Homo sapiens: one gene and its partner. The protein of the gene in region 1 interacts with the protein of each later gene in a pairwise test. Each region holds a gene or a part of one and is shown on either strand. Other genes may lie near its edges. The genes, in order: IPO11 and PLCD4.

What was found.
Region 2: the proteins of IPO11 (region 1) and PLCD4 interact in a two-hybrid assay, tested with the Homo sapiens proteins (one large-scale study listed by BioGRID and IntAct).

What each region holds. Positions count from the first base shown.
Region 1 is NC_000005.10:62,482,169-62,485,990, forward strand, and holds part of IPO11 (importin-11), read left to right. Parts: intron 1-932; coding exon 933-1,125; intron 1,126-1,841; coding exon 1,842-1,994; intron 1,995-3,250; coding exon 3,251-3,294; intron 3,295-3,822. UniProt on the Homo sapiens protein: Functions in nuclear protein import as nuclear transport receptor. Serves as receptor for nuclear localization signals (NLS) in cargo substrates.
Region 2 is NC_000002.12:218,614,133-218,617,954, forward strand, and holds part of PLCD4 (1-phosphatidylinositol 4,5-bisphosphate phosphodiesterase delta-4), read left to right. Parts: intron 1-1,574; 5' UTR 1,575-1,607; coding exon 1,608-1,629; intron 1,630-1,771; coding exon 1,772-1,930; intron 1,931-3,822. UniProt on the Homo sapiens protein: Hydrolyzes the phosphatidylinositol 4,5-bisphosphate (PIP2) to generate 2 second messenger molecules diacylglycerol (DAG) and inositol 1,4,5-trisphosphate (IP3).

The DNA of each region.
Region 1 (3,822 bases):
CTTCTCTTTTCTTCTTTATTAGTCTTGCTAGTGGTCTGTCACTTTTGTTGATCTTTTCAAAAAACCAGCTCCTGGATTCATTGATTTTTTGAAGGGTTTTTTTGTGTCTCTGTCTCCTTCAGTTCTGCTCTGATCTTAGTTACTTCTTGCCTTCTGCTAGCTTTGGAATGTGTTTGCTCTTCCTTCTCTAGTTCTTTTAATTGTAATGTAAGGGTGTTGATTTTAGATCTTTCCTGCTTTCTCTTGTGGACATTTAGTGCTATAAATTTCCCTCTACACACTGCTTTAAATGTGTCCCAGAGACTCTGGTACATTGTGTCTTTGTTCTCATTGGTTTCTTTTTCTGTGGCTAAGATTGATGAGTGATCTATCAAATTTCCTCAGCAGCTTTTCTCTTATTTTAACAGCTGTTGATCATCATTTGCCTAGATCCATTATTTGATCAGGAGTTACACAATGATGGCATTCTAATTCTGTTATTCCTTTTGCATTTATTAGCTGAAATTCTTCTATAAAGAAGACATCTCCCTCCTTAGCTATTTGATAACATTAAAATATAATTCATATGGGAAAGGGAAGATAATATTTAAATTCTTTACCTTAGTCTATTACTTTTAAAGGTCTATTGTATATTTAAGCGTTTTGTATCATATTCACCCATTGTTATAAAATTAAGTATGAATTGAGTCTGTTTTGGTTTCTGTATTGAAAATAATAGAAAGTTCTTATTATCAGATATAATCTAACATAATCCTCATTATATGATGTGCCTCAAGAAGAGTTATGATAATGTAAAACTGAGTGAACATAGACTCCACACTAAGGTTCAAACTGCTAAATGATTATTAGTAAAGTTATAATTGGAGTGATTATATTCCAATATGAATTTGGGGAAAATACATTTTAATTTTTATTTATTTATTTTTCTACAGCTTTTGGACTTCTTGGATCAGCATCCTTTTTCATTTACTCCTCTAATTCAGAGATCACTGGAATTTTCTGTAAGCTATGTTTTTACAGAAGTTGGTGAAGGCGTTACATTTGAACGATTCATTGTCCAATGTATGAATCTTATTAAGATGATTGTCAAAAATTATGCTTATAAGCCATCCAAAAATTTTGAAGGTAATTCCTTTATTGGCAGTTTAAAAGAATTATTTTAATCTTAAGTGTGATATAATTGCTATAATTACAAACTTTTTAAAAAATGTCATTTTAGTCTGAAAAATAAATTGTTGCTGGGACATGAAAAAGATATAAGGATTATAGGCTTTAGTATGTTTATACTAGCTTTTAAAAACAACATAGTGCATTTAATAAGCCATTTTTTGTAGCACAAATTGGTTGAAGCTTAGGGACTTTAAGAATTAGGTACTATAGTCATCACTGCAGCTCATATTGTAGGGTGTATTCATTTGAACAAATAAAAGCTTTCTCTGACTTTATATAAAGTGTGATTGTTTCTAGACAGGTTAAATTGTTGTATTATTTGGAATTCATTCATATGCGTGTGTGCCAAGATGAATGAAGAAGTCTTGGTGGTGGGGGAGAGAGAAACACATGCACACACCCCCCACACCCTCTACATTATGAGGAAGTTATTTCAGTATGCCGTGATGGTATTGCATGGTAATATATAAGCTGTAATGCCAGAGGCAAGATTGATGTGAGTGTGTTGTAAGGAAAGAGTATCTTTGAGATTTGTTTATAATAAAAATGAAAATTTATACACAAGTGTATCTTCTTCCCTGAGAGTGTATTTTTTATTTATTTAAGTTACATAATCCAATGTAGCTACAATGTTTGGCTATACAATTAACTTGGAAATTTCATTTTTCTAGATAGCAGCCCTGAAACTCTTGAAGCCCATAAGATTAAGATGGCATTCTTCACATATCCTACTTTGACAGAGATATGTAGAAGATTAGTCTCTCATTATTTCCTATTAACTGAAGAAGAACTGACAATGTGGGAAGAAGACCCAGAAGGCTTTAGTAAGAATTAATTTTTTAGTGTTAGAATGACTTTTCTCCCCTTTCTATAAATATCTGTTTGAGTGATAGGTATAATATTGTATTTTCATACAGCACTTTTGATCTGGAAATCTTGGTGTTTTAAAATTAACTTACTCTTTCGTTGTTATCCATTAGAACAAATTGAGAAGCAGAAAATGAATGACTTATGCAAATATGTTGTAGAATTTTGTCCAGGAAAAGACCTTTTTAGTTTTTGGATTCCTTTACAAATATATCATGTAGTTTCAAACAAAAATATAAAATTAACTCTCTCTTACCCTGTCAGTTTCTATTTTGTGATTCATTCCATGTTATTTTTTATTTGTAGAAATTCTTGCAAAGAAATTTGGAGGTTTTTGATGAATAGTTTTTTTTTTTTTTTTGGACAGGACATCTTTATATCTGTTTGAATTTTAGTACTAGATAGATAAGTAGAATAAGTCTGTTGGGACCCTTGCTATAGAAAATCAAGGAATCATGTGTCTAATAAAGTACTTACTTGTATGTGAATTACTTAAGCTATGGTGGGACATAGGCTAGATTTTAGCCTCCCTTTTCTCTTTGGTTGTGTACCCTTGTGTAGTTACACGTTTCCTAATATTTTAAGAGTGCCCAAAAGTTTTTGTAATACTTATCTTCGCCATGCTTTTGGTTTTTAAAAGTAATTTTAGTTTTAATACAGGATTGTACTGTACAACATGTCTTTTCTTGTTTTTTTTTTTGCTTTTTTTGAAACATCTTTTTTCAATTTGCTTTCTTTATATAGTACATACAACATTGTAACATAAAGTGTTGAGTCCCTAAATTTTTAAGAGCCCTGAAGTATTTTTCTTTAAATTCAAGAAATTTATGGAGAGTGTGAGTAATCATTGTACCTAGTGAAACATGATTACTGTATTGAAATGAAATGATTCTCAGAATTCTAGTGATATTGGATCAGGTGATAGCAGATACCCTGGAAATGACAACTACTTTGAGCTTTTTTCCATAAAGAATTTTTATCGAAAATGAGAATGCTTATGGATATAGTAAGCACTTAATAGACGACTGTGAGATACACAACTGTGATCTGTAGCATATAGTAACAAAATCTGTGTAAGGCCTGTGTTCCCAAGGCTTTGCTCTTAATGTTATGTTTAAAAGAGTTCACAAAAATATTATACTGATGTTATTAAAATCTTTGTTTTCTAAACCAAGATGTTGAAAATGTCATTATTACATATTTTTAATTGCAGCAGTGGAAGAAACAGGAGGAGATTCTTGGAAATATAGTTTGAGGGTAAGTATTAATTGCAAGAAAAATTGATAGGGGAAAGCTTAATCTTTCTAAAGCTCTTAGTAGAGAATGACACTCTATTAAAGATTCCAGACATTTGCTGGGCATGGTGGCTCACACTTTAATCCTAGCACTTTGGGAAGCCAAGGTGGGAGGATCGCTTGAGGCCAGAAATTCAAGACCGGCCTGGTAAACATAGTGAGACCCTGTCTCTGCAAAAAGTAAAAAAAGGAAAAAAAAATTAGACCAGAGTGGTGGCGCATACCTGTAGTCCCAACTCTTCAGGAATCTGAGGCAGGAGGATTGTTTGAGCCCAGGAGGTTGAGGCTGCCGTGTGCCATGATGATGCCACTGCGTTCTAGCCTGGATTACAAAGCAAAACCCGTCTCTTAAAAAAAAAAAAAAAAAAATTAAAGATTCCCAACATTAAGTCAGACAGATAAGAAACTGTTTATAAGAAACTAAGAACTATATTCATATTAAATTATGACGTTTAATCTGAGTTTTTTTTCTTTTTTCTTTTTCTTTTTT
Region 2 (3,822 bases), on another chromosome or scaffold:
CCTCAGCCTCCTGAGTAGCTGGGATTACAGGTGCACACAACCACACCCGGCTAATTTTTTGTATTTTTAGTAGAGACGGGGTTTCACTATGTTGGCCAGGCTGGTCTTGAACTTCTGACTTCATGGTCCGCCCGCCTTGGCCTCCCAAAGTGCTGGGATTACAGGCTTGAGCCACCGCGCCCAGCCTTTTGTATTTTTTTAGTAGAGACAGGGTTTCACTGTGTTAGCCAGGATGGTCTCAATCTCCTGACCTCGTGATCCACCCACCTCGGCCTCCCAAAGTGCTGGGATTACAGGTGTGAGCCACCGTGCCCAGCCTTTTTCCTCTTTTTATTGAGACAGAGTCTCGCTGTGTCGCCCAGGCTGGAGTGCATGGCACAATCTTGGCTCACTGCCAACCTCTGCCACCCAGGTTCAAGCGATTCTCCTGCCTCAGCCTCCCAAGTAGCTGGGATTACAGGTGCTTGCCACCATGCCCAGCTAATTTTTTTGTATTACTAGTGAGACGGGGTTTTGCCATGTTGGCCAGGCAGGTCTCAAACTCCTGACCTCTGGTGATCCGCCAGCCTCGGCCTCCCAAATTGCTGGGATTACAGGCGTGAGCCACCGCACCCAGCCAACAGCCTATATCTTAAAAGAGGTACCCTTTTTTGGTAGGTAGAGAAAATTTGAAAATGTAGTTCTGAGACTTGTGTAACTTATTTGGTCCATTAAAACTGTGAGAATAACTATAAAGGAAAGGTATAAAATATGCTTTACCATGTGAAGGTAGAAGAAGACAACTAAGTATTGTTAAAGAGAAAAAAGAAAGTCTGGCCGGGTGCAGTGGCTCACGCCTGTAATCCCAGCACTTTGGGAGGCCGAGGTGGGCGGATCACGAGGTCAGGAGATTGAGACCATCCTGGCTAACACAGTGAAAACCTGTCTGTACTAAAAATACAAAAAATTAGCCGGGTGTGGTGGCACATGCCTGTAGTCCCAGCTACTCGGGAGGCCGAGGCAGGAGAATCGCTTGAACTGGGAGTTGCAGTGAGCTGAGATTGCACCACTGCACTCCAGCCTGGGTGACAGAGCGACACTCCGTATCAAAAAAAAGAAAAAGAAAAAGAAAGTCTGCACTAGCCCCTCAGGAGCTGGACAGTCTATGTGGGAGCATAGATAGAGAGGACTCCCAGAATAGGGAAGCTGAAAGGATTCCACCTGGAAATGAGAAGGCTAGGGTGTGAAGAGATTCTAGTTTCTGAAAGGGACATCCAGCAAGATGTTAGTTCCTAATAATGAGAGGGTGGGGAGTGAGCAAAATGTGGCACTAGTAGACTGTGGGTTATTGGGTAGGAAGGGGGTGCTGGGCGGAATCTTTGGTTTACCCTTCTCTGAAGATAGCCATGGGAAATAGCAGAGGCTCTGGGATCAGACATATCTTGGTTTAAATTCTGATCCTTATGTGATTTGAGGCAGGTTTCTAAACCTATCTAAAGTGTCAGAGTCACTAAACTCAAAATTAGAAGCAAAAATCAGCTACAGACTATCTTCAAGATTCACCCAGAGCCCTTTGCTCTTCCTTGCTCCTTTAGGTGATCTGGTGCCAGCTGGTGGAACAGTGGGTGATGGCGTCCCTGCTGCAAGACCGTGAGTGCCGGGGCCCCTGCAGGGGAAGAGGCCTTAGTGTACAGCTCAGGGAAGGGAAGGAGGTTGGACCCCTGTTCCAGAGCTCTCCCTGGGCCTGCTACCCTCTCTGCTGGCTACCTAACCCCTGCTTTTCCTGACCTAGAGCTGACCACTGATCAGGACTTGCTGCTGATGCAGGAAGGCATGCCGATGCGCAAGGTGAGGTCCAAAAGCTGGAAGAAGCTAAGATACTTCAGACTTCAGAATGACGGCATGACAGTCTGGCATGCACGGCAGGCCAGGGGCAGTGCCAAGCCCAGCTGTGAGTGACCTGGATAGTGGGGGGTGGATACATGGGTGGATAGAGGCCTGAGGAGCCCGGCAGGGGAGGGACCAAAGTCCTACGATAGTGTGTGTTTGTGCTGTCCTAATTGTGGCTATATCTGAGCCTGTAAAAGGAGATCATAACAGTACTTGCCTCATAAGGCTGTTATGAGGATTAAATTAGTTATTGTATATAAAAGGCTTAGAAGAGTCCTGGAACATAGTAAGATGTAATAAATCATTGGTTACATCTTGTTGTTATTATAATAAGACCATGATCTTGGGCATCAGCCTGCCTGAATTAAAGCCCTGGCTCTGCCACTTTCTAACTGAGTAGCTGTGGAAAATCAAGTAGTTAAGCTATGGCTGGGCATGGTGGCTCAATGCCTGTAATCCCAGCAATTTGGGAGGTTGAGGCAGGAGAATTTCTTGAGACCAGAAGTTCAAGACCAGCCTGGACAACATAGGGAGATCCTGTCTCTATAAAAAATAAAAATAAAAAATTAGCTGGGTGTGGTGCTGTACGCCTGTGGTCTCAGCTATTTGGGAGGCTAAGATGGGAGGATCACTTGAGTCCAGGAAGTTGAGACTGCAGTGAGCTGTGATCACACCACTGCACTCCGCCTGGGTGAGTGAGACCCTGTCTCTACAAAAATACATATATACATACATACATACATACATACATACATCAAGCTTCAGTTTCCTCATCTGTAAAACAGGGATTAAACAGTACCTGCTTAGTAGGCTACAAGGACTCAATGAGTTAACATGTAAAACACTTAGCATGGGATGTAAAACCAGAATGCATTTAATGAATGTTAGCCATTATTTTATATATATATATATATATATATATATATAGAGAGAGAGAGAGAGAGAGAGAGAGAGAGAGAGAGAGAGAGAGAGAGAGAGAGAGAGATGGAGTCTCGCTCTGTTGCCCAGGCTGGAGTGCAGTGGCGTGATCTCAGCTCACTGCAAGCTCCGCCTTCCGGGTTCACGCCATTCTCTTGCCTCAGCCTTCTGAGTGGCTGGGACTACAGGCACCCGCCACCACGCCCGGCTAATTTTTCGCATTTTTAGTAGAGGCGGGGTTTCACTGTGTTGGCCAGGATGGTCTCCATCTCCTGACCCCGTGATCCGCCTGCCTCGGCCTCCCAAAGTGCTGGGATTACAGGCGTGAGCCACTGCACCCGGCCTATAATAAATATTTTTAAATACAAAAAATGCGGCTGGGTGTGGTGGATCATGCCTGTAATCCCAGCACTTTGGGAGGCCGAGGCAGGCAGATCACTTGAGATCAGGAGTTTGAGACCAGCCTGGCCAACATGGTGAAACCCCATCTCTACTAGAAATACAAAAATTAGCCGGGCTTGGTGGCGCGCACCTGTAGTCCCAGCTACTCGGAAGGCTGAGGCAGGAGAATCGCTTGAACCTGGAAGGCAGAGGTTACAGTGAGCTGAGATTGTGCCATTGCACTCCAGCCTGGGTGACAAGAGCAAAACTTGGTCTCAAAAAACAAAATAAAACAAAAAAAAAATCATAACAGTGTGCACTTATTGGCCAAACTCTTTATGATAACAAGACATAATTTGATCACAGGACACATCTAAGAGAGTCTGTTTTACAGACAAATTGCTCACAATCCATACCGCCCCCAGCTGAGGTAAGAGGGTGAAAGAATTTCTCTGGTTCCCTCGTAGACATCTGGAAAGAGGAAGCCCTCAAACCTGGAATGGGGGCCAGGCGTGGTGGCTCACGCCTGTAATCCCAGCACTTTGGGAGGCCTAGGCGGGTGGATCACGAGGTCAGGAGATTGAGACCATCTGGCTAACACAGTGAAACCCCATCCCTACTAAAAAAATACAGAAAATTAGCCGGGCATGGTGG